Linked DNA regions of Homo sapiens. The protein of the gene in region 1 interacts with the protein of each later gene in a biochemical or structural test. Each region holds a gene or a part of one and is shown in the gene's direction. Other genes may lie near its edges.

Region 1 (7,423 bases):
GTCTCTCTCTGTCACCTAGGCTGCAGTATAGTGGTGCAGTCATAGCTTACTGCAGCCTCAAATTCCTGGGCTCAAGCAATCCTCTCCCCTCAGTCCTCGAGTAGCTGGGACTACAGGCACATGCTACCATGCCCAGGTAATTTTATTTTATTATTAGTTTTTGTAGAGACAGAATCTCACTATGTTGTCCAGGCTGGACTCAAATCCCTAGGCTCAAGCAATCCTCCTGTCTAGCCTCCCAAAGTGCTGGGATTACAAGCATGAGCCCCTGCACCTAGCTGACCAACCTATTTCAGAGACCTTATATATTGTAATATACACTGAAAAGTTGAAAAAAATTGTCCATTGCACAAACAATAACTAAATTTAAAAAGAAAAATATATGCACAAGCCTGTCTTTTCATGAAGTCATTTTTTTGCATACTTTCCAGTTTTTATTTTTTTTATAATTTTATCACTGTCATCATCATACATTAGATGTAATTTGTGTTTTTTTGTTGATAATTATAGCATTATCATTCTCCTTGTTGTATAGACTTCCTTATTACAATTTTAAATGATGGTCTGCTATGCCAATTATGTTGATTTACTGTAATTTAATAGCCCAGCCCACCATCATTGGACATTGGTGGTTTCCATCATTCATTATTAGATACAGGCATATAGTGAAGTGCTGCCTCATACCTAGTCATCCACTGTAATCTAACCTCCAGTCGTATCTTTCCATTGAAAAGCTCTGGCCAAGATAAGCAGTGGTCCTCCACTTAATGAACATCATCAGTTCTTACCTTAATTGACCTCCTCGAAATTCCATGTTGTTGGCCTCTCCCTCTTTCCTGAAGTTTGTTCTTTCCTTGGCTTTTTGGACACTCTCCTCCAGAAGCGTTTTCTTTCCTTTCTGGCAGCTCCTCTTTGGTCTCTGTTCTGGCAACTCAAGTCTGCCCCCTAAATATTGGCATTCCCAGAGATGAGTCCTGTCCTTAGTCCTCTCTTGGCTTAATCTACATCACGTCTCTGAATGTGGGATTGTCCCCTCCCAAGACTTCAACTTTTATGATACATTGATGATACCCAAATCACTCCCAAATCTCTCTCCTCAAATACTCATCAGTGCCTAGCACATAGGAGACACTTGATACATATTTGTTAAATTACTGAACATCTTCACCTGGATGACCCATAGCACTTGAAAATCAGTCTGTAACTAAACTCATCATCTTTCTTCAAGCTCCTCCCAAGATCTGCTCCCACTCCTGTGTTCTGTTTTGATAAAAGCCACCGTCATCTCCTTTAAGTAAGCCAGAAACCTGAGAGTCAGCGTAGGCTCACTTCCCGCTCGCGTCTCCCCATATCTAGTCAGGCAGTCATCCAGCCTGCTGATCTACTTCCTTAGTTTCTCTAGAATCTGGCTCCCTTTTGTCTAACACTGCCTAACTTCATAGCCACGTCATCTCTCACCTGCATTCCCACAAAAATGCATTTTTGGCCGGTCTTGTCATTCTTACTAACATTCTCCTCCCCCACCAACCCCTGTCCCCCACCAACTGTCAAATCCATCTTTATACTTGCCTGGGCAACTTCACCTTCTGGCACCTCAAGAGTAAGCCTGCTGTCTCTTCCTTCCTTACTTCTCTCTGTGTTATTTATTCCCCTTACCTGGAAGGCTTTTTTCCTTCTTTGTGTCTTAAAAACTCATTCCGACCTCTCCTTTAGAATGTATAAGCAACCCCATCTCTGGAAAGCCTTCCCTAAGTCTCTCCTGCTAGACCACTCTGAGCCTGCCAGGAATCTCAGTGCTTACACAGTTTATCATTACTTGTTGATTGTCTACTGCAATAGACTGAGTTTCCTAAGGCAGGATCCTGAGTATTTTATCAAGGGGTTGACAGAGGTGTTCAGTAAGTACCTGTTGAGTAGAAGAATTTTTTTTTTTTTTTTTTTTTTTTTGAGACGGAATCTCGCTCTGTCACCAGGCTGGAGTGCAGTGGTGCAATCTCGTCTCACTGTAACCTCCGCCTCTTGGGTTCAAGCGATTCTCCTGCCTCAGCCTCCTGAACAGCTGGGACTACAGGCGTGCGCCACCACGCCCAGCTAATTTTTGTTATTTTTAGTAGAGACGGGGTCTCACCATGTTGGCCAGGATGGTCTTGATTTCTTGACCTCGCGATCTGTCCGCCTCGACCTCCCAAAGTGCTGGGATTACAGGCATGAGCCACCGCGCCCTGCGGAGTAGAAGTTCTTTGGATAAACACATTCTAGGAGTGGGGTCAAAATGTGCAAACCCACACGTGAAGAAGATGACTAATAAATTGTTTCTCCAAAGAGTTGTATTGATTTACACTGCCACCAGCAAAAAAGCTAATATATCAACTGAACCGTGTTTCTAACAACCATTTACTGAATGCTTATCATCTGTCAGGTGTTGTGCCAGAAGAATGGAGTTTGTCTATAAATATTTCATCATTTCGAGTAGTGCAGTCCAACAGAACTTTCTGCATTGATGGAAATATTCTATATTTGCACTGTCCAATAGGGTAGCTATTAGCCACATGTGGCTTCTGAGCCCTTGAAATGAGACAAGTGTGACTGAAGAACTGAATTTGTCATTTCCTCTAATTTTAGTTAATTTACATGTAAATGTAAACACTTACTGGTGGCAAGTGGTCATCTTATTGAACAGTGCCGCTCTAGAGAGAAAAAAGGAAATCAGTCAGTAGATGTAACTGCCACATTCTGGATTATTTTTTAAATGTTAGTGGCTCTAAGCCCACATCATTAAGGTGTGGCCACCTTTCAAGTGCTATCATTTTTATTAGTCAGCACCACCTAATTTGGGAAATATTTTATTTTTTTTTCCTTTTTTTTGATTAAAACAATTTTTAAAAAATAGAGATGGGGTCTCACTATGTTGCCCAGACTGGTCTCAAACTCGTGGGCTCAAGTGATTCTCCTGCCTTGCCTTCCCAAAGTGCTGGGATTACAGGCATGAGCCACCGTGCCTGGCCAGATTTGGGAAACATTTTATAAATAGGTGCTTAGATCAGGAGAGCAATGCCTTACATCAGGAATACAACCAAAATGTCTAAGTCCGGAGACTCGAGGCAAAGTGGGAAACGTTACTCACAGTGCTTTTTATCCAGAGGCGTGGACTTAGTTACTCCAAAGGAGTCCAGAAGCATAACACTTCTGGAGAGGCATCTACTGGACTTGTTTTTCCACGAAACTTCTAGACTTGTTTTGATCAGGCAGGAAGTGAAGCAACTTTTCAGGGAGAGAGCCCAGCATCTGCATCTCCTCTGGGACAGACCACACCTTTTACCTTCTACTTGTGAGCCTAGGACGAGTTTTGCTTTCCAATTAAGGGAAGAGCAGGGCAGGCAAAACTATTCTCTTACAAGATGGTTTTTTAAGATTTCAAACCCAAGGTTATATTTTTAATCGGTACCTGTTTGGATTCTCCAAATTAATTTATATGCTCTTAAAATAAAGACACTTAACGTCACTGCACAATTCTTTGCACATGGAGGACTTCGAAAGGAATAAGCACACTGAATTGCATTAGATGAATCCTGTCAGATAAGCACTTGTGACCTACTGGCAACCTTTTATAAGCTGATGATGGGAGAGGAGTTTCAATCTCTTTATTGGAGTTGTTGGAAATGTGCCAAAGAGATAACCTGGAATATATTGTCCTGAAAAGTCCTGTTTTAATATTTAATACGAACATCTTATAACCCTCGGAATTCGGGTAGGCAGTTGTTGGGCTGAGAAATGTGGGGTACAAGGCCGTGTATGTGTTGGTTAGCCGGGCAGGCCTCTAGACAGGACCTAAAACTTTGAGGTTTTCCCAGTTCGACTCTTCGTAGGAGAACTGAAGCTGCCTGTGTGAGGCCCTGCGAACCTCGCCAAAAAGTCTTCCTACAGGATGCCCCCGCGACCTCACCGGGGAAACACCGCGGACAGTCGGGCCAGCAGCGCCCGGAGCTCACTCCAGGTCTCCAAACTTGCAGCACTTCCCAGAGCGCGCGCGCTCGGAGCGGGACCTGCTTGCTCCAGTGCACGCCGCGGAGCGAACCATCGGGCTGGCGGGGGTGGAGGGGTGCAGGCGTGGGGGCTGCGGGCCGCTCGGGCCTTGGGCTTCTCCTGCCGCCGCCGCCGCCTCCCGCCCCCGGCCAGGAGTCGCGCGTGACGCGGTTCGCCGCAGGAGCCTCGAAGGCGCGGCGCCGGCGAGCCCTTCCCCGGCAGGCGCGTGGGTGGTAGCGGCCAATTTGACAGTTTCCCGGGCCGGGCGGCCAGCGCGGAGGCGCCACGCTCGGGTCGGGGGCGGGCTGACGCCGCCGCCGCCGCGGGAGGAGGGACAAAGGGGTGGGTCCCCGCGGGTCGGCACCCCGGCGGTTGGGCTGCGGGTCAGAGCACTGTCCGGTGGTGCCCAGGAGGAGTAGGAGCAGGAGCAGAAGCAGAAGCGGGGTCCGGAGCTGCGCGCCTACGCGGGACCTGTGTCCGAAATGCCGGTGCGAGGAGACCGCGGGTTTCCACCCCGGCGGGAGCTGTCAGGTTGGCTCCGCGTAAGTGCCTCCTTGTGCCGCGCGGTTGGGAGGAGGGTCGTGAGCGTGAGCGTGGGAGCGCTGGGGGCTCTGCTCGCGTGCTGCTCTGAAGTTGTTCCCCGATGCGCCGTAGGAAGCTGGGATTCTCCCATCCGGACGTGGGACGCAGGGGAGGGGTAGGTTTCACCGTCCGGGCTGATGACTCGTGGCCTCCGGGGCTCCTGGAACCTTTACTCTGAAGTCACTTGGGCTGGAGATTAAGGCGCGAGTAGGGGACACTGTCTTGAACCCGGTGTCCTGGATTTCTGCTGGCTTGGAGGCATCTCGTGTCTGTTGTGTCGCTTGCATGTCTTTGTGTTTTCCTTCTCTATTTCAAACCACACTCGGTATTGATGCAAAGTTACAGGCTTGTGTACGTGAGAGAAACTGAAAACTCATCACAGAGCAGAATCCCTTTTCCCTTTCAATCAGCTGCGTCTGTAATAGAAGTAAAAGTTGTTTTTTTTTTTTTTTTTTTCCAGTAGGGAATGGGGATGGAGGTTTGGAAGGACCCACAAAAGAGGAGTGTGATGAATGCTTTGTATTCTAGTACTAGCCTACCTGTCACCAGTTCTTTTTATGTCTTCATTTGTCAAGTTTCTGCTTTTACACGGTAGTTTAAGTTATAAATAATCAGGGATTTCTACCACAGGGTTTTAACATTCTTGAAATGTGGACAAACTTGGGAGTGAGTGCTCCCGCGCTTAGTAATGGAATACAGCCTCCCACCTCTATTTCAGCTTCAGTTCTTAGGCTAGGCTGCTTTTCTGGCAGCTGTCTGGCCTGAGTAATGATGGTTGTGGTTTCCCTGAAGTTCCCAGCGGAGAGTCATCCCATGATAGAAACTGCCTTGCGCTTCTCACTCACGCTCTCAGCCCGGGGAATCCCAGCGGGGAGGAGGGAGGGAGGTCGTTTTCTTCAGCTCCCCAGGTGGTCTGTGCTGGGTGTGCTGACGGTCCTTTTGGGAAAACAGGTCCACCTTTGCCAGCGTAATTCAGAAAGAGATGTAATTTTCTGAGAGCACACACCTGGGCAGGAGATCGCTTGAAGTGAGAAATTCGTAGTGGTAAATGTATTTGTAGCAAAGTACCACTGCATATCCTGCTTGAGAGGATGAAATTTGATTATTTAGTAAGTTTTCATGAACAACTCCACTTCAGTGTGGGGATTACGCAGATGAGCAAGAGCGTGGCTCTGTCACACAGTCCCGTTGGGAAAGCCTGCAACTCATTAAGAATCCGATGAGTGCCATTTAGAAATGTGGACAGGGTACTGGAGCTTCCTCATTGTGGGGAGATGGCAGAAGCGGAGGTGCTTTACTAAAGCACCGGTGGCTTTTGAGGTGTTTCTTGTGTTTTTTTCAGAACTACTTCTGCAGTGGGGCCACTTTATTTCTTTTCAGAGCTACTTATGCAGATTGATGAAGGGGAACTTTCCCCTCTGAAATGCTGCTGTAACTTTTTCAGTACCATCCAGATATTATAATACTGAATGAGCCCCTACTCCTGCCAGTCACTGTGGGGGATACAAAGATGAACAAGATTCAATTTCTGCATTTAGGGGTCTAGTGGACCTGAAACTGTTAGACTTTACTCTGCAATCTGTGTCGGGATTCCTGAGACTGAGGGAGGGAATGTATGATGCCGATGCACACTCTGCAATACAGAAATTTAGCAAAGAGTGGGATTGGTCCTATATGCATTCCCTTCAGGGGATTCTTGCTGGGAATAAAGGGCATTTGAACAGTTACCTCACCCGAGCAAGCCACTATAGAAAATGGGGCCAGTAATGCGCCCACCTCACCGGGCTGAGTGAGGTCTGAATGAAATGACAGAGAGTACAAGGCATGTGGTGGATGCTACGTAAATGGTGGTAGCTAGTAATAGGAACAAAACGGGTGCTGAAAACTCTTAAGTGTTGGGTCCTGGGTTGATAAGGGAGGTGAGATCTAAAGATACAAGTAGGAGGTGCCAGGTAGGTGTCCAGGAAAAAACTGAAAGAGTTGTTGTTCACACTCTGTTAAAAGGCCTTGAAGGCCATAACGAAGCTTTGGGTGGGGGGAAGTCAGAAATCCCTCATGTATTAAATGACTTGACTTTCCCTACAAAAGAAGCGAACCAGTTTCCCAGTAAACATCCCACCCCATAACTATTTTTGAGGCATTCATAGGCTTAAGACCAATGAATTTTTACATCACCCCCGGGGGAATTGCATTTGCAATGACTTCTGCCTACATTTAACTTTTGATCTAGTTCTTTGTACACTGACAAAAGTTCACAGCCAACCATTTCTCTTCAGGACAAGTGTGAGAACTTTCTGCATACTGCTGAAGGCAAGGGAGATTTTGAGTTTAGCAAGGTTTTCTCTCCTTAAGAAGGTTATCTTTTTACGAGACACAAGTTATTGAAACTAGGCGGGGCCACTTTAGTCCTGTGTACAATAATATGTGTAGTAATATAAATAGTAATTTAAAAAGTCATGCAGACTTGGTTGGGGAGAGGCATGAAGTTTGGGTGTGGTGGGGGCGGGGTGAAGCGGTAGAAGGGTTCGCAATCACTGCTGAAACTTTCAACATATTCTACCAACAATATGAGCCACCAGGGAATTCCTTGCCTCATCTCTAGAACGAATCCCATTAAGCAGTTGTGGCTACAGATGAATTTATCTAGGTTGAGAGCTGATTCCCAATAACATGCCTCATTGATTTGACTCTAAGCAGTAATCAGGGGCCCAACAGTTGTTGGACCAACCAGCCTTGATTTTCCAGAGAAGGTGATTTGGTATATGGTAGTGTCTGAGGGTGAGATTGCCCCAGATGGGAGTGGAGGGAAGCAGAACAG
Region 2 (7,034 bases), on another chromosome or scaffold:
ACGATGGGCGGCCAGGCAGAGACGCTCCTCACTTCCCAGACGGGGTGGCGGCCGGGCAGAGGCTGCAATCTCGGCACTTTGGGAGGCCAAGGCAGGCGGCTGGGAGGTGGAGGTTGTAGCGAGCCGAGATCACGCCACTGCACTCCAGCCTGGGCACCATTGAGCACTGAGTGAACCAGACTCCGTCTGCAATCCCGGCACCTCTGGAGGCCGAGGCTGGCGGATCACTCGCGGTTAGGAGCTGGAGACCAGCCCGGCTAACACAGTGAAACCCCGTCTCCACCAAAAAAATACAAAAACCAGTCAGGCATGGCGGTGCGCGCCTGCAATCACAGGCACTCGGCAGGCTGAGGCAGGAGAATCAGGCAGGGAGGCTGCAGCGAGCTGAGATGGCAGCAGTACAGTCCAGCTTCAGCTCGGCATCAGTGGGAGACCGTGGAAAGAGAGGGAGAGGGAGACCGTGGGGAGAGGGAGAGGGAGAGGAGGGAGAGGGAGAGGAGGGAGAGGGGGAGGAGGGAGAGGGGGAGGAGGGAGAGGGGGAGGAGGGAGAGGGGGAGGGGAAATGTTTCTTAATCTGTCTTTTTTTTTTTTTTTTTTTTTTTAAACAGAGTCTTGCTCTGTGGCCCAGGCAGGAGTGCAGTGGCACCATCTCCACTCACTGCAAGTTCTGCTCCCCCAGGTTCATGCCATTCTCCTGCCTCAGCCTCCCGAGTAGCTGGGACTACAGGCGACCGCCACCACGCCCGGCTAATTTTTTGGTATTTTTAGTAGAGACGGGGTTTCACAGTGTTGACCAGGATGGTTTCGATCTCCTGAACTCGTGATCCACCCGCCTTGGCCTCCCAAAGTGCTGGGATTACAGACGTGAGCCTCCGCGCCCGGCTGCTTTGACATTTTTCAAGACTACAGCCAGTTATTTTGTAGATCGTCTCACGCTTTGAATTTGATGTTGCCTCATGACTAGTTGAGGTTATGTAATTTTCAGGCGAAATAACACAGAGGTGATGTTGTATCCTTCTCAGTGCATCGTGTTAGGAGATACGTGATGTGGGTTTGTGTCCTTATTAGGGACAGTAATTTTGATTACTTGGTTAAGGTGGCATCTCAGGTTTCTGGACTGTGAAGTTACTATTTCCCCCATCTGTCATAAATAAATAATCTGTTGGGAGTTACTATGACACTAGATCACGCTACTGAGAAACTGAATGCTAATCTACTTGGTTAGCATTCTTTGATTCTTGCCTGAGGCAATTAATATTATGGTTCCTGAATGCTGATTTTTCTAAATACATTGTTCTTTCTACATTTATTAGTTTGTTTCCTATTGTTTGGAAGAACTTTTCCTTCTTTATTCATATTAGCATGGACTCATGCATTAGTCAATGGATCATACTTTGTTCTATCTAATCTCCACTAAAGCTCTCTGAAGAAGGCAGTGGTTGGTAGTCTTTTATGAGGGATCTAGTTCAAAGTTACGTTTTTTTTTTGAGATGGAATCTTGCTCTGTTGCCTAGGCTGGAGTGCAGTGGCATGATCTCGGCTCATTGCAACCTCTGCCTCCCAGGTTCCAGCGATTCTCCTGGCTCAGCCTCATGAGTAGCTGCGATCACAAGCAACCGCCACTACGCCTGGCTAATTTTTGTATTTTTAGTAGAGAGAGGGTTTCACCACATTGGCCAGGCTGGTCTCGAACTCCTGACCTCAGGTGATCCACCCACTTTGGCCTCCCTAAGTGCTGGAATTACAAGCATGAACCACCATGCCTGGCCAGTTTTCACCCAGTAGTTTTGACATTCATTGCTAATCCTTGGCTGGATCAGTTTTTACCAGTGGGGGTTGCAAGATGGTCATTTTCTAATTCTATTCTAGATTCATGGTAAAGAAATTCCCTCCCCATACCCTTTCTTTTGAGGATCCCTATGGTCTTAAGGATATTTATTTAATTATTTAGTTACAGACAGTTACAGTCATTATTCTCTTTGATAGTTGTCCTAAATTTGGCTGATGGGAGCCCTTGCTTCCTGTGTCTTTTGATATGATCTTGTTAGTCTTGTCCCCTTTCCGCACAATACAGTGCTTCAGACCTGGAACTTTGGTTTCTATTAATGGGAAATGGTCCGTTTTTTAAAAAAAAAATAAGTAGAAATGGGATCTCTCTGTGTGGCCCAGGCTGGTCTCAAACTCCTGGGCTTAAGTGATCCTCCTGCCTTGGCCTTCCAAAGTGCTGGTATCACAGGCATGAACCACCATGCAAATGGTATTTAATAGAAATAAATACTTGGGCACTGATAACACTGGTTTTTTTTTGTTTTTGTTTTTTTTTTGAGACAAGAGCTTGCTCTGTTGCCCAGGCTGGAGTGCAGTGGTGCGATCTTGGCTCACTGCAACCTCCACCTCCCAGGTTCAAGTGGTTTTCCTGCCTCAGCCTCCTGAGCAGCTGGGATTACGGGCGTGTACCACCACACTGGACTAATTTTTGTAGTTTTAATAGAGACGGGGTTTCACTATGTTGGCCAGGCTGGTTGTTTTGTTTTTTAATTTGCCAACATTGTTTTTAAGAGTAACATTGTAGCCCGTTGTGTCATTGTTACATAATTTATTGAGTGATCTGTTGTTTGAAATTTAGGTAATTTATAACTTTTAATGTTTATATAAAGCAGTGTTGTGAACATCATTGTATCCCAGTTTTTACATGTTCCTTAACTTTAGAATAAGATTTTAGCAGTAGATTTTCTGGGTCATACAAATGTACTTTTTAAAGATTTTATTTTATTTATTTATTTTATTTTTTATTTTTTTGAGACGGAGTCTTGCTCTTTCGCCCAGGCCGGACTGCAGTGGCGCTATCTCTGCTACTGCAAGCTCCGTCTCTGGGGTTCACGCCATTTTCCTGCCTCAGCCTCCCGAGTAGCTGGGACTACAGGTGCCCGCCACTGCGCCTGGCTAATTTTTTTTTTGTATTTTTAGTAGAGACTGGGTTTCACCGTGTTAGGCAGGATGGTCTCAATCTCCTGACCTCATGATCTGCCCGCCTCAGCCTCCCAAAGTGCTGGGATTACAGGCGTGAGCCACTGCGCCTGGCCAAGATTTTATTTTTTTAATTTTTATTATTATTATTATTTTTTAAGATGGAGTTTTTTTCTTGTTGCCCAGGCTGGAGTGCAATGGCACAATCTCGGCTCACTGCAGCCTCTGCCTCCCGGGTTCAAGCGATTCTTCTGCCTCAGCCTCCCGAGTAGCTGGGATTACAGGCGTGCACCACCAGCCTGGCTAATTTTGTATTTTTAGTAGAGACAGGGTTTATCCTTGTTGGTCAGGCTGGTGTCGAACTCCCGACCTCAGGTGATCTGCCCGCCTTGGCTTCCCAAAGTGCTGGGATTACAGGAGTGAGCCACCACGCCCAGCCTTTAAGCTTTTAAATGTCTACCAGCAGTTTGTTGTCTAGAAAGTTTATATTAGTGTTTACCTCAGCTTCATGCCTTTTCTTTTCTTTTTTTCTTTAATAATTGAAGGCACTACTTTTAGAAGAAAAGACTAACTGTTATTTTCGTTGATGTTTTCTCCCTATTCTTAAAGCCGCTGTCTGACAGAAGTTTCTCTTGACACTGATACAGTGATATTTGACTAAGTGTGATTTGAAATTTCTTCTGGCTATGAGTGATAATAGCTGTGGGTGCAGAGGGCAGCTGATTTAAACATTATGTTTTAATAGAATAAGACAAGTCCTTCTCTAGGAATCCATCAAAAAATGAAGTGAAGCATACCTTTTAGATACTACTGTACCATGAATGTTGTGGAGTAGGAAAAATCAGGATCTTCTGTATTCGTTTTTGAAGCAGTGTCTTTGAAAGTAGCTTTTGGCCGGGTGCGGTGGCTCACGCCTATAATCCCAGCACTTTGGGAGGCCGAGGCAGGTGGATCATGAGGTCAGGAGATCGAGACCATCATATCCTGGCTAACACGGTGAAACCCCGTCTCTACTAAAAATGCAAAAAAATTAGCCGGGCGTGGTGGCGGGCCCCTGTAGTCACAGCCACTTGGGAGGCTGAGGCCAGAGAATGGCGTGAACCCAGGAGGCGGAGCTTGCAGTGAGCTGAGATCCACCACTGCCCTCCAGCCTGGGCGAAAGAGCAAGACTCTGTCTCAAAAAAAAAAAAAAAAAGAAAGTAGCTTTCATTCACTTTAGCTTTTCATCTTGTTTCTAAAGGTGGGGCAGATAAAGTGAGTAGGAACTGAGGTAGGAAGTCTTGGTGCTAGAGAAGCCCAAAGGGAAACATTCTGTGTGTTTGGGAATGCCCTCTTGTAGTACCCCTCCTATTTGTAAGCCTGAAATCATTAAATATTAAGAGGTTGTAAGGTTTACTGGGTCTTCATGTGTAGGCTAGTTAGAATTTTTTCATCTATAGTGAATATAGCTTTCCTGATGCAAAAGTCCCAAAGTAGGAGAAGATTTGTTACATATTTCATGTTTGTGTTTGATGTTTGCCTGACTGACTTTTTGTTTCTTATTTAGAAATGACTGCTGTCCATGCAGGCAACATAAACTTCAAGTGGGATCCTAAAAGTCTAGAGATCAGGACTCTGGCAGTTGAGAGACTGTTGGAGCCTCTTGTTACACAGGTAAGAATCTGAAAACACAAATACATTGTAACATGGTTCTATAGCACAGGCCTGGGTAACAACCATAAGAGCAAGGTTATTTAGTTCAAAGCCTTAATTCCAGTACTTGAGTTTAGGTGACAGTTCTTAGATGATTTGAATATTGATGCATGGGTTTAGTTAACCCTTGAGAACGCTGCTGCTGTCGTTTTCTTCAGTCTTATTGCTAGTAACGGGTCCATGGTATGTAGTGCAACTTTGCAAATGTTTGTGCTTTGCAGATACTTCACCTTTCTTCAGAGGGGAAACCCAAGAAAGGTGGAGTCTGGATCCTTGATTGTTAAGGTCTCTCACTCTGCTTAACACACCTTTCATTGTGTGGGATTAATTAGCAGGTAATTCAACTTGAGGGTTTAGGTTTGGTATGCTACAAATGTCACAATGTTAGGGTAGTTCATAAACTGTTAGCAACTAGCTGTGTACTTTTAGTGTTTTACAATAGTATGTCTATTGTTTGTATGTGAGAGATTCAGAGAGAGAGAGAGAAAATGAGTCTTGTTTGGCAAATTTACACTATAACATATATTCATCATCTTTAACCTAGAGATAATCTGGTATTATGTGTATTAATGATGGTAATGTTCTAAGACATAAAGCGTCATCACTGTAGGCTTCTTTGGGCAATCATTCGTTTATTGGGACCTTTACTAATTGCTGAGATTTGTGTGAATAAACTGTCAAAAGACTTCAGAAGCAAATTATCTTAAAATGTTTTGCAAAGTTTGAAAACAGTGGCAGTGTGATCTCCAGATAAAGCTAAGTTCATTGTTAACCTCTTTCTGGAACATCTTGGTGACATATAGTAGAGACATCTAACTTGTCTCTAATCATTTTTTAATTTGTAAAATCAAACTAAAAACCTAATGATCATATTTGAGAAATTAAAATATGTGTTAAATAATTCTCTGTACACATTAAGAAAGCTGAATTATTTTGGAAATTAAATATAGCATCATTGCTGTATATCTTAAATATGGGGAATTGTATGTTAATGTTCAGTGGAATCTCATGTGATTTTTTAAAAGAATAACTTAATCTTGCTGTCTTTAAAGATATTAGTTTGTCATTTTAATTGACTCCAGTTTAATGTTAAAAATGAAACTTTTAGGTTACAACCCTTGTAAACACCAATAGTAAAGGGCCCTCTAATAAGAAGAGAGGTCGTTCTAAGAAGGCCCATGTTTTGGCTGCATCTGTTGAACAAGCAACTGAGAATTTCTTGGAGAAGGGGGATAAAATTGCGAAGGAGAGCCAGTTTCTCAAGGAGGAGCTTGTGGCTGCTGTAGAAGATGTTCGAAAACAAGGTAGGTCATTACTGCTTTTTAGGTAAAGAGAGGCAGGCCTTTCTAGAAAATCAGTGTTTGAAGATTTTTTTTGTGGTCAGTATTCTCATTCTTATGCTTGCCAATTGCTCAGTAACTTACTTAGTTATTGGAGATGTATTAAGTTGGACTGGCTCATATTTTAATTCTCATTCTTATGCTTGCCAGTTGCTCAGTAACTTAGTTATTGGAGATGTATTAAGTTGGACTGGCTCATTTTAATCATGAGAGATGCTTGCAGAGGGACATCTGGAGAATCTGAATCCACTTCTCTTGGGTATTTCAAGTAATAGTTAAGTCTTAGAAATGTTGTAACACAAATTGATAGGAAAGAAATGGGACCGAAGTTTACTTTTCATCCTGTGTAATACTTCTTTTTAGTTCATGCTGAAGAGATGGGTGTGATAAAATGGAAAAATATCTACCTACTCTGAAAATACTCTAGAAATTGTCCTATTGTGTCAGAATAGTATGTTAAATCAGCCATGCATATTTGAACTGGTTGGAGCTTGACATAAATCTGGGTATAAAGGAATCATGTTTTGGGAAATTCAGAATTGATAAAAAGTAAAATGGTAATCCACAGTTTACTAATAATTAATGCTAGAAAAATTGTCCTTATTATGTTACAAATGTGGAAGGAAGACTTTAAATACGGAAGATAAACTTCTTGAAACCTGCAGTTTTTATTTTTAGTAGAGATGGGGTTTCACTAGTTGCCCAGGCTGGTCTCAAACTCCCAAGCTCAAACAATCCGCCTGCCTCGGCCTGCCAGAGTGCTGGGATTGCAGGCATGAGCCACAGTGCCCGGCCTTGAAACCTGTAGTTGTGTGTTAGGTTTCTTTTCCAGTCGGAGAATTTCAACAATGATGTAGGTTTTTTAGGTTATTGGATATCAGCTAAGGTAAATCGAGCCCTGCTATTTACAGGTGCTTTACTAACCCTTGGGAGAACTTCATAGATCTTTCGTGCCTGATGGTAGATTGCATAGTCCAGAGTCTTATGTCAAATTCATCCCTGTGGCAGTACCCATAAATGGGCAGTGCCTTAGAT
Region 3 (3,840 bases), on another chromosome or scaffold:
TGGTTTACAAGGGATACTAGTTCCTGGAGGGACGAAGGAGGCTCTGTTTGCATTCTCTGGCCCCTCCCATTTGAATAGGCTGTGATTTTTTAGTTGCCTGGGAATTTTTGGATTCAGGGTTCAGAGACCATCCTCCCATGACTCAGCCTCACTTTGTTCAGCTTGCTGGTTCATCCTTAGCCCTCCCCAAGTCTGGTCCTCTCACCCATCCCCACTAGGTGGATCAGCTGAGGACAGAGCTCATGCAGGAAAGGTCTGCTCGGCAGGACCTGGAGTGTGACAAAATCTCCTTGGAGAGACAGGTGATGGGGGAGGGGAGGATTCTTAGGGATGGACCCCAGGAGGTGAGTAAAATGGCCAGTGGAGTGCTAACTGTGGAGGCTTCCTGTCCCTCTCAGAACAAGGACCTGAAGACCCGGTTGGCCAGCTCAGAAGGCTTCCAGAAGCCTAGTGCCAGCCTCTCTCAGCTTGAGTCCCAGAATCAGTTGTTGCAGGAGCGGCTACAGGCTGAAGAGAGGTGACATAAGCCTATCCTTCCTCCCTTCCTCCCTCCTTTTCTTCCTCCCTCCCTCTTGGCTTTTCTCCTCTGTGGCTCCCTCCATCTTCCACCTCAGATATGGCCAGCCTGGCCTGATCTTTAGGGAACACTTTCTCCTGATAGAGAGCAAAGAGTGTTGCAGAAATTCTGAAATGTGAATGACGTCACTCTCCCTCATTCTTTGAATCTGCCCTGGATCCTGCCCAGTCTAATGGTGGAGCTCATGGCTGAGAGGAGTCCTTGGGGACAGTAGGGGGCCAAGTTAGGATTCCCTTAGAAATGGGGACACTCATAGACATTCTTCTACCTCACCTTAGGGAGAAGACAGTTCTGCAGTCTACCAATCGAAAACTGGAGCGGAAAGTTAAAGAACTATCCATCCAGATTGAAGACGAGCGGCAGCATGTCAATGACCAGAAAGACCAGGTGAGGACATGGCACCCTGGAGCCAAGCAACCTGGGGCAGGTATATATTATATGTTTTCCTGAAAGCCAAGGGAGGCCCTTATCTCCTATAGGTCCTCCAAACTTAGACTTTCCTTGTATAAGGACAGAGATTAGATTGAAAAGACTAGACTAGAGAAGTCATGGTAAGCGTATATATTGAGTGCTTATGATGTGCTAGGTTCTGTAAGTATTACACATGTGTTAATACATTTAATCCCTAAGACAACCATGTGAGGTTAAGGAACTTGCCCAAGGCCACATTTTTCCAGCGGCAATTATACCTTGTCAAGATTGTTATGGGGGAGGGTCCCAGGCCATGGTAGTAGATGCTATTCAGATGTGTGGACTTGGTATCCTGCCCAGCTAAGCCTGAGGGTGAAGGCTTTGAAGCGTCAGGTGGATGAAGCAGAAGAGGAAATTGAGCGACTGGACGGCCTGAGGAAGAAGGCCCAGCGTGAGGTGGAGGAGCAGCATGAGGTCAATGAACAGCTCCAGGCCCGGATCAAGTCTCTGGAGAAGGACTCCTGGTATGGGCTACCCTTTTGCCCTTGCTCCATAGGGACACTAGAGCAGGGAGGGAATGGTCTCTCCTGTGCTGGATAAGGAGGAGAATCTCTAACATGGTACTGTGTAGTCACTTGTTTCTGGTTGGAAGCCAGTATATTTATTTATTAGTATCTCAGCCACCATCCTGTACCTCCCCAAATCTGATTAGTTGGGGATTTTGTGAATAAACTTTAGGCCTTAGAAGAATTGGGGTTTCCTTTGTACAAAAAGGGTGGCTGTCTTAATATTTCTATTTTCCCCTCCCCAACCATTATTCTTCTCTCTGAGTCAGGCGCAAAGCTTCCCGCTCAGCTGCTGAGTCAGCTCTCAAAAACGAAGGGCTGAGCTCAGATGAGGAATTCGACAGTGTCTACGATCCCTCGTCCATTGCATCACTGCTTACGGAGAGCAACCTACAGACCAGCTCCTGTTAGCTCGTGGTCCTCAAGGACTCAGAAACCAGGCTCGAGGCCTATCCCAGCAAGTGCTGCTCTGCTCTGCCCACCCTGGGTTCTGCATTCCTATGGGTGACCCAATTATTCAGACCTAAGACAGGGAGGGGTCAGAGTGATGGTGATAAAAAAAAAAAATCATCAGCAATAAGCTGATAGATGGACTTTCCACTGTAGGAGTGGACATTTCAAGCCAACTGAGCCTTTTCCTCAAGTGCCGACACCTCCCTCATCTCTCTTATAGTGGAAGGATGGTCAGCATTAGGCTGATGGGGACTGAGAAGGATAGGAAGGGATAGAAATTGCCATGTGTATAAAGCTTTATTCTTTAGCCCTTAACCCTAAGGCTCAGGGAAATACCCTATGTTATTGTGCTCCCTGGATTCCTGCAACTCATTTTCCTTCCACTCTGGAGCAGGGTGAGGGGAATGTTATGGGTAACAGACATGCAGGCATGGCTCTACCCATTTCTTTGCACAAGTATGGGGCCCATGTGGTAGTCCCCATACCCCTCCAGTTCCTATATTTTTGTCTTCTTCCTTTCCCCTCTTTGCCATTCCTACCTTGCATTTTTCCTGTCAGTGCCTTAGCCAAGGCAAGGAGATAAGGATGCTCTTCTTGCTTTTTATATCTGCACATTCATACCTCTCCAAAGACCAGCTTTTCCCCAGCCAGGGCCCTCAGCCTTCCCTGCTGCCCCAGTGATTGATTGAGAGAGCTGTTGGGGTTTCTCTGCCAATGACCCCTGGGAGAGGGACTTTGGTAGGGTCATGATAAAGTGGCGGGGGTCTGGTCCTGCTCAGGGTTTTCATCCTTCCTCCTCTCCCTCCTCTGTGACTGTGGATATGGTTATAAGGTGGTTGCACCTGGGAGCCCTGACAACTGGCTGCACAAATTCCAAAAGTAAAGGTGTCAGTCCCTGTGGCCTTCCTTGGGGCTTCTCTGACCACATGTGCCCAACTTCAATAAGAGAACCAAGGGACCCTCATTTTCTGAGGTGCTTGGCTCTGATTCAGGGCTTTGCAAGGGGTTAGAAGCTGACTGTAAAAATGGGAAGAGGCAACGGAAGACATTTATTTCTCCTTTGGATTTTGGGGAGAACCAAGCCCTGGTAGGGAAGAGGTAAGGGGGATGATTCACCTCCATATTTCCTAAGCAGGTTGTATAGGGAGCCGGTGGCAGGAGGAAGGCTGTTTTCACAAATGACTTGTAATGTCGTGATTAAAAAAATTCCTATATTCTTCTGCAAATCAAACGTTCTTTCCCAATCCAATCCAGCCTTGGTTTTATTTTAAATTAAATATTAAAATTACACATTTATATTGAAATCCTTGGTTTGTCTTCTCATTCTTTTTCTTGGCATATTTGGAGGTCCAGATTTTATGAAGTCATATTAACTGTACAGCTTAGGAGCCGAAGCTGGAGTTTTCTTCACCTGACTTTTCAGAGGCCCTTTAGAACAGAGCAGATGGGACCTACGAAACCTGGAGATGTTTATAGCAGCCCCATTCTCTTCTCTCCTGAACAACCTTCTGGGAAGAACAAGGACAGTAAATGCCTTTTTTTTTTTTTTTTTTTTGAGACGGAGTCTCACTCTGTCACCCAGGCTGGAGTGTAATGGCATGATCTCAGCTCACTGCAACCTCTGCCTCCCGGGTTCAAGCGATTCTCCTGCCTCAGCCTCCTGAGTAGCTGGGATTACAGGCGCGTGCCTCCACACCCAGCTAATTTTTGTATTTTTAGTAGAGATGGCGTTTCACTGTGTTGGTCAGGCTGGTCTCAAACTCCTGACCTTGTGATCCGCCCACCTCGGCCTCCCAAAGTGGTGGGATTACAGGCATAAGCCACTGCGCCTGG
Region 4 (7,034 bases), on another chromosome or scaffold:
CTGAAAAAAAAAACAAGTTTTGTGTGATGGAGTGAGGGACAGGGAGGGCATCTCCCAGAAGGTGACGTCTGAGCTGAGACCTGAACAGCAGGTGTCTGTTGTGTAAAAGATCTGGGCTTTCTAGACAGGAAATTGCAAGATCAATGTCCTTTTTGGATTGACACCTTTATTGTAGACAGCAATTCTCAAAATATGTGATGTGTTTAAAAATCACCTGGAAGATTTATTAAAAATACAATTTCTGACACAGAGTCTATTACAAAATCTGCCTAACTTCAAATTTTTAGACAATTTACTAATGATGTGCCTGTAGTCTAAATCATTTAATATAAGGCACAACTTAAACTTTTTTTTTTTTTTTTGAGACAGAGTCTCGCTGTCTCCCAGGCTGGAGTGCAGTGGCACGATCTTGGCTTACTGCAAGCTCCGCCTCCCGGGTTCACACCATTCTCCTGCCTCGGCCTCCCGAGTAGTTGGGACTACAGGCGCCTGCCACCATGCCCAGCTAATTTTTTGTATTTTTAATAGAGGCGGGGTTTCACTGTGTTAGCGGGGATGGTCTCGATCTCCTGACCTCGTGATCCTCCCGTCTCGGCCCCCCAAAGTGCTGGGATTACAGGCGTGAGCCACCGCGCCCGGCCACAACTTAAACTTTTTAAAGGCAAATTGACAGTTACTGCATGTGCTCTAAAAGGAACAGACTTCTCTTAAATACAATAAAGTTTATTTTTCACTTATTGACAGTTTTCTTTAAAGAATAATTTGAGGCCAAAGCATTTTCAGACTATTTTTTCTTTTTTTATACTTTTTTTTTTTTTTTTTTTTTAAGATAGATAACGGAGTCTTACTCTGTTGCCCAGCCTGATCTTGAAGTTCTGGGCTCAAACAATCCCTCTGCCTTGGCTTCCCAAAGTACTGGGATTACAAGTGTGAGCCACCTTGCCCAGCCTCAGCCTGTTTTTTTCATCTTAGCTTAGTTTTCCATTAAGACAGCTTTTGGTCAGTAAACATTGTCAAGGGGAGAACACTTTATATTTTATCATTAGCCCAAGATGCTGGTTTTCAGATTAACATATTTGACAAGGATCTATCTGCTGCTTCCCTTTTGCCCCCGACTCTAATTTAGCTGTCTGACTTCTGTCCTTGTCACTCTCCTGACATAAGTTCCTGTAGGTGATAAGTGGCCTCTTCATTCTCATTTTTTCCTTCACTCAACACATGTACAGATTGTTAATGTTGCTGTGCTGGGCATTGGTCCTCTTTCACCTTTGGCTGCTGGCCTTAAAGCACAGTCACAGATTCACTTTGAAAGAGACCTTAGAAGTCTTCCAGTCTGGTCTCCAAAAAAATATCAAATAACTTAAGCTTTGCATAAATTGCATGAGCTCAAATTGTTGTTAGTTATTTTCGGAGAGGGTGTGGGGTCAGGGTGAGGGAGAGGCTTCCTAACATTGAGATGAAATCAGCCTGTGGTTTTTGGAATTTTTTTTTTTTAACCATTTCTAGGATAACAAAGACAGCTCTTCATATATTTCAGGGCTGCTAAAGCGATTCTTCTGACGTTAAGTTCTCCAGGCCAAACATTTCCTGTTTTTCCAATCATTTGTCTTAAGACATGGTTTTTCTAGATTTTTTTTTTTTTTTTTTTTTGAGCCAGAGTCTCACTGTGTCGCCAGGCTGGAGTGCGGTGGCACAATCTTGGCTCACTGCAACCTCTGCCTCCTGGGTTCAAGCAATTCTCCTGCCTCAGCCTCCCAAGTAGCTGGGATTACAAGCACACACCACCATGCCCAACTAATTTTTGTATTTTTAGTAGAGACGAGGTTTCACCGTGTTGGCCAAGATGGTCTCGATCTCCTTGTGATCCACCCGCCTCGTCCTCCCAAAGTGCTGGGATTACAGGCGTGAGCCACGGTGCCTGGCCAGCTTTTCTAGATCTTTAATGATCTTAGTCACCCTCCTGGAGAGGCACATAGTTTAGAATGTGATGTACAAATCAGGTTTTGTTTGTTCTTTTTAATAGCATATTATTCCTAGATATGAGCACTATTTCTGTGAATAAAGTTTGGGATAGGTTGTTAGCTTTTGTTGAAATTCTTACCAAAGAAATGCACCTTTAAAAATGAACCACTTTGGGAGGCCGAGGCGGGCGGATCACGAGGTCAGGAGATCGAGACCATCCCGGCTAAAACGGTGAAACCCCGTCTCTACTAAAAATACAAAAAATTAGCCGGGCGTAGTGGCGGGCGCCTGTAGTCCCAGCTACTTGGGAGGCTGAGGCAGGAGAATGGCGTGAACCCGGGAGGCGGAGCTTGCAGTGAGCCGAGATCCCGCCACTGCACTCCAGCCTGGGCGACAGAGCGAGACTCCGTCTCAAAAAAAAAAAAGAACGATTATTAAATTAGTTCTCCTCTATACTGTACTATGGAATTGACTTTTTAAAAATTCAGTTTATGGCTGGGCATGGTGGCTCATGCCTGTAATCCCAGCACTTTGGGAGGCTGAGGTGGGTGGATCACCTGAGGTCAGGAGTTTGACACCAGCTTGGTTAACATGGTGAAACCCCGTTTCTACTAAAAATGCAAAAATTAGCCTGGCCTGGTGGCATGTGCCAGTAATCTCAGCTACTCAGGAGGCTGAGGTGGGAGAATTGCTTGAACCTGGGAGGTGGAGGTTGCATTGAGCCGAGATCACGCCATTGCATTCCAGGCTGGATGACAGAGCAAGACTCCTGTCTCAAAAAAAAAAAAAATCAGTTTACATTTTAAAAATGACTCATTTATGCCACCAATATAGTCACCCTTCAGTATCTGTGAGAGGTTGCTTCCAGGACCCCCATGATACTAAAATCTGAGGATGCTGAAGTCCTTGTTATAAAATAGCTTTGTATTTGCATATGGCCTAAATGCTCTTGTATACTTTTTTTTTTAATTGTTTTTTTGAGACAGAATCTCACTCCATCATCTAGGCTGGAGTGCAGTGATGCAATTTTGGCCCACTGCAAACTCTGCCTCCTGGGCTCAAGCGATTCTCCTGCCTCAGCCTCCTGAGTAGCTGGGATTACAGGCACCCGGCACAATCCCAGTTAATTTTTGTATTTTTAGTAGAGACAGGGTTTCACCATGTTGGCCAGGCTGGTCTCGAACTCCTGACCTCAAGTGATCCGCCCGTCTTGGGCTCCCAAAGAGCTGGAATTACAGGTGTGAGCCACTGCACCCAGACCTCTTGTAGACTTTAAATAATCTCTAGTTATAATACCGTATACAATGTAAATACTATGTAGAATTGTGATATTGTAGTTTTAAAAATCTATTTTTTGTTTTATTGTTTATTATTTTTTTAGACAGGGTATTACTGTTACTCAGGCTGGAGTATAGTGGCATGATCACTCCAGCCTCAACTTCCTCTGCTCAAGAGATCCTCCCATCTCAGTCTCTTGAGTAGCTGGAACTTACAGGGATGTGCCACCATGCCTGGCTAATTTTAAGAAAAATTTTTTGTGGAGATGGGGTCTTACTATGTTGCTGTGGTCAGTCTTGGACTCCTGGGTTCAAGTGATCTTCCTGCTTCAGCTTCCTAGAGTGTTGGGATTACAGGTGTGAGCCACTGTACCTGCCCTGTAATTTTTAATTTTTTTTTCCCCTGAATATTTTCTGTCTGAGGTTGGTTGAATCAGAATTTAAAACCCATGGATGTGGAGGGTCAGCTGTATTTGAAAATGGATACAATATACCTAAGTGCCTAAGCACTGAAATTTCTTACTTTCAGGATAACCACCTTATGATGAATGCAGTTGCCCATTTTCTTGAAGACTTTTTCTTGTGGTTTTTTTCTTTCTTTTTTTTTTGAGCCGGAGTCTCGCTCCGTCGCCAGGCTGGAGTGCAGTGGCGTGACCTCAGCTCACTGCAACCTCCTCCTCCTGGATTCAAGCGATTCTCCTGCCTCAGCCTCCTGAGTAGCTGGGGCTACAGGCGCGCGCCACCAAGCCCAGCTAATTTTTGTATTTTTTTAGTAGAGACAGGGTTTCACTATGTTGACCAGGATGGTCTTGATCTCTTGACCTCGTGATCCACCCGCCTCGGCCTCCCAAAGTGCTGGGATCACAGGCGTGAACCACTGCGCCCAGCTCTTTAAGACTTTTTCTTATCCCAGTGCAGAGGTCAGGATTATTCCCGCATTTGAGTGCACTTAGAGGAGATAAGGAATTTGTCTCAGATTGCGAGCCAGTAAATGGGGGCTGTTAAAACCACTAGGTTGTTTCAAACTCATCATTCTGACATTACAGAGATCTTGCTTAGTGTTGATGGCCCTAGCCAATGGGTTAGTTATCCTTTCCAGTGTGTTTGGTCAGCTGCAAATCTGGATAAGCGTGTCTCCTCCACTTTGTCTGTGTTTACCAGTGGAGACCTCCCACCAGGTGGACATAAATGGTTCATTCTTTTGTGCTAATTGGGTGCCGTAATCCAGCCCCTTGGGAATCTGCCCACCCACACAAGGATGTGCTCAAGATTTTCAGGATTCTTTCTCTCTGCATTCCCTGAAGAGGAAATAATAAAGGAGAAAATAAAATCCACCAGTTTGGTAACCTTCCCAGAAAAGGAAATGAAGTTGGTGTGGCATGACTTGTTCTTAACGAGCTTTCTTTTCTTTTTTTTTTTTTTGAGACGGAGTTTTGCTCTTTTTGCCCAGGCTGGAGTGCAATGGCGCAATACTGGCTCACTGCGAACTCCGCCTCCCAGGTTCAAGCAATTCTGCTACCTCAGCCTCCCAAGTAGCTGGGTTTACAGGCATGCACCACCACGCCCCTCTAATTTTTTGTATTTTTAGTAGAGATAGGGTTTCACCACATTGGTCAGCTGGTCTTGAACTCCAGACCTCATGTGATCCACCTGCCTCGGCCTCCCAAAGTGCTGGGATTACAGGCATGAGCCACATGATTTGGTTCACAATTTAAAATCCGTGCTTTTGGGGAGACGTGACAACTCTGAATCCTGGAAATAGCAGTTTGAAAAGGGATCTTGTTTGAATTTTTGACAACTTAAGACTGAGTCTGGATTAATTTAGAGTTTCCAAAACTACCACTGAACCTAGAATTTGGGGATATTTGACATTCAGCTTCAGAACTAGGATCCCACATTTAATAGTGCTTAACTTCAGATTTTCTGTTTTACTTTTTTTTTTTAAAGGAGTCTTGCTCTGTCACCCACGCTGGAGTGCAGTGGCACAATCTTGGCTCACTGCAACCTCCACCTCGGGCTCAAGCGATTCTCATGCCTCAGTTTCTCAAGTAGCTGGGATTACAGGCACGTGCCACCATGCCCAGCTAATTTTTGTATTTTTAGTAGAGACGGGGTTTTGCCATGATGGCCAGGCTGGTCTCGAACTCCTGACCTAGGGTGATCCACCTGTCTCCACCTCCCAAGTGCTGGAATTACAGGTGTGAGCCACCTCACCTGGCCTAAATTCAGTATTCCTTAATGTTCTTTTTCTGAAGACAATCTGGACTTTTGCCTTTTTATAGTACCATAACATTTTCGCCTAAATTGCTCATTTGTATGTGTGTTTCACCATTACTAGAATATAGAGAAATTGGCCAGGTGTATTGGCTCATGCCTGTAATCCCAGTACTTTGGGAGGCCAAGGCAGGTGGATAGCTTGAGCTCAGGGGTTTGAGACCAGCCTGGGCAACATGGTGAAACCTTATCTCTACTAAAAATACAAAAATTAGCCAGGCGTGGTGGCATGTGCCTGTAGTCCAGCTACTTGTGAGGCTGAGGCAGGAGGATTGCTTGAGCCTGGGAGGCAGGTTGTAGTGAGCTGAGATGATGGCACTGCATTTCATCCTGGGCAACAGAATGAGACCTTGTCTCAAAAGAAAAAAAAAAAAAGTATAGAGAAATTGACTTGAGTGCTAGTTACAGGGCTGTGTACACTTATGATTTGTGCACTTTTCTCTATGGTATACTTTAAAAGTGGCTTTTAAAAATGTAGAAAAGTCATCTTCCTTCATGTCTTTGGAAAATTATGCTAATTGTGTTGGTGTTATTAACATTCTATATATTTCCATCTTTGAGGATTTATCTAATACATAGTTGGGCAGGGTTTAATTCTGAGAGATTTGAAATACACTGTCCTAAAGGGTATAGAAGAGAGTTGCCAGGTGGGGCGTGGTGGCTCATGCCTGTAATCCCAGCACTTTGGGAGGCCAAGGAGGGCAGATTGCCTGAGCTCAGGAGTTTGACACCAGACTGTGCAACATGGTGAAACCCCATCTTTACTAAAAATACAAACAATTAGCCGGGCGTGGCAGCGTGCGCCTGTAGTCCCAGCTACTCGGGAGGCTGAGGCAGGAGAATCGCTTGAAGCCGGGAGGCGGAGATTGCAGTGAGCTGAGATCATGCCATTGCATTCCATCCTGGTGACAGAGCGAGACTCGGCTCAAAAAAAAAAAAAAGAGTTGCCATTAATTTAAAAAAAAGTTTTAAGAGTCTGAATTGATGTACTGTTGTTAATATATTAATGTATGATTGTACAGACCGTATTAGAAAAGGAAAAAAAATCAGATACTTTAATGTACTCATTATAGATGTTACTCAAGTGTCATTCAGGGATCATACCTTTTAAAGTTACTCTGATACTTTTCCGTTACCTTCAACTTGAAAGCACAAGAGGTTTTGCAGGCAGAGATATCCATGGTCCAATCTGGTTCCTGTAAACATTCAACAAATTATCTGGACGTCTACTATGTGCCAGGCATTGATTTAATCAGTGAACAAAACATGCAAAAATTCCTGCTCACATGGAATTTACCTTCCAGTAGATCTCAAAGTTCCCTACTCTACTAATCACTGGTATAACCTGGAAAGAATTTATTGTTGGTTCAACATAGCTAAGGAGTGGCATGAAGTTCTGTAGCTGATGTGGGAAGTACCTTGCCAGTGTCTCCAGCACTGGGTTTTCTAGAATAATCCTCAAGCTTTATAGGTTAGGGGGTTGTGTGTTTACCACATCTTGCTGAGACTTGTCTTTTTCCT

Evidence for each region.
Region 2: the proteins of TJP2 (region 1) and CTNNA1 form a complex in vitro, tested with the Homo sapiens proteins (2 studies listed by BioGRID and IntAct, with this or other methods).
Region 3: the proteins of TJP2 (region 1) and CGN form a complex in vitro, tested with the Homo sapiens proteins (2 studies listed by BioGRID and IntAct, with this or other methods).
Region 4: the proteins of TJP2 (region 1) and OCLN form a complex in vitro, tested with the Homo sapiens proteins (3 studies listed by BioGRID).

The regions. Positions count from the first base shown.
Region 1 is NC_000009.12:69,169,868-69,177,290, forward strand, and holds the start of TJP2 (tight junction protein 2), read left to right. Parts: upstream 1-4,409; 5' UTR 4,410-4,505; coding exon 4,506-4,565; intron 4,566-7,423. UniProt on the Homo sapiens protein: Plays a role in tight junctions and adherens junctions. Acts as a positive regulator of RANKL-induced osteoclast differentiation, potentially via mediating downstream transcriptional activity.
Region 2 is NC_000005.10:138,777,410-138,784,443, forward strand, and holds part of CTNNA1 (catenin alpha-1), read left to right. Parts: intron 1-4,513; 5' UTR 4,514-4,515; coding exon 4,516-4,620; intron 4,621-5,767; coding exon 5,768-5,963; intron 5,964-7,034. UniProt on the Homo sapiens protein: Associates with the cytoplasmic domain of a variety of cadherins. The association of catenins to cadherins produces a complex which is linked to the actin filament network, and which seems to be of primary importance for cadherins cell-adhesion properties.
Region 3 is NC_000001.11:151,535,382-151,539,221, forward strand, and holds the end of CGN (cingulin), read left to right. Parts: intron 1-218; coding exon 219-302; intron 303-398; coding exon 399-517; intron 518-855; coding exon 856-964; intron 965-1,348; coding exon 1,349-1,512; intron 1,513-1,823; coding exon 1,824-1,965; 3' UTR 1,966-3,311; downstream 3,312-3,840. UniProt on the Homo sapiens protein: Probably plays a role in the formation and regulation of the tight junction (TJ) paracellular permeability barrier.
Region 4 is NC_000005.10:69,495,757-69,502,790, forward strand, and holds part of OCLN (occludin), read left to right. Parts: intron 1-7,034. UniProt on the Homo sapiens protein: May play a role in the formation and regulation of the tight junction (TJ) paracellular permeability barrier.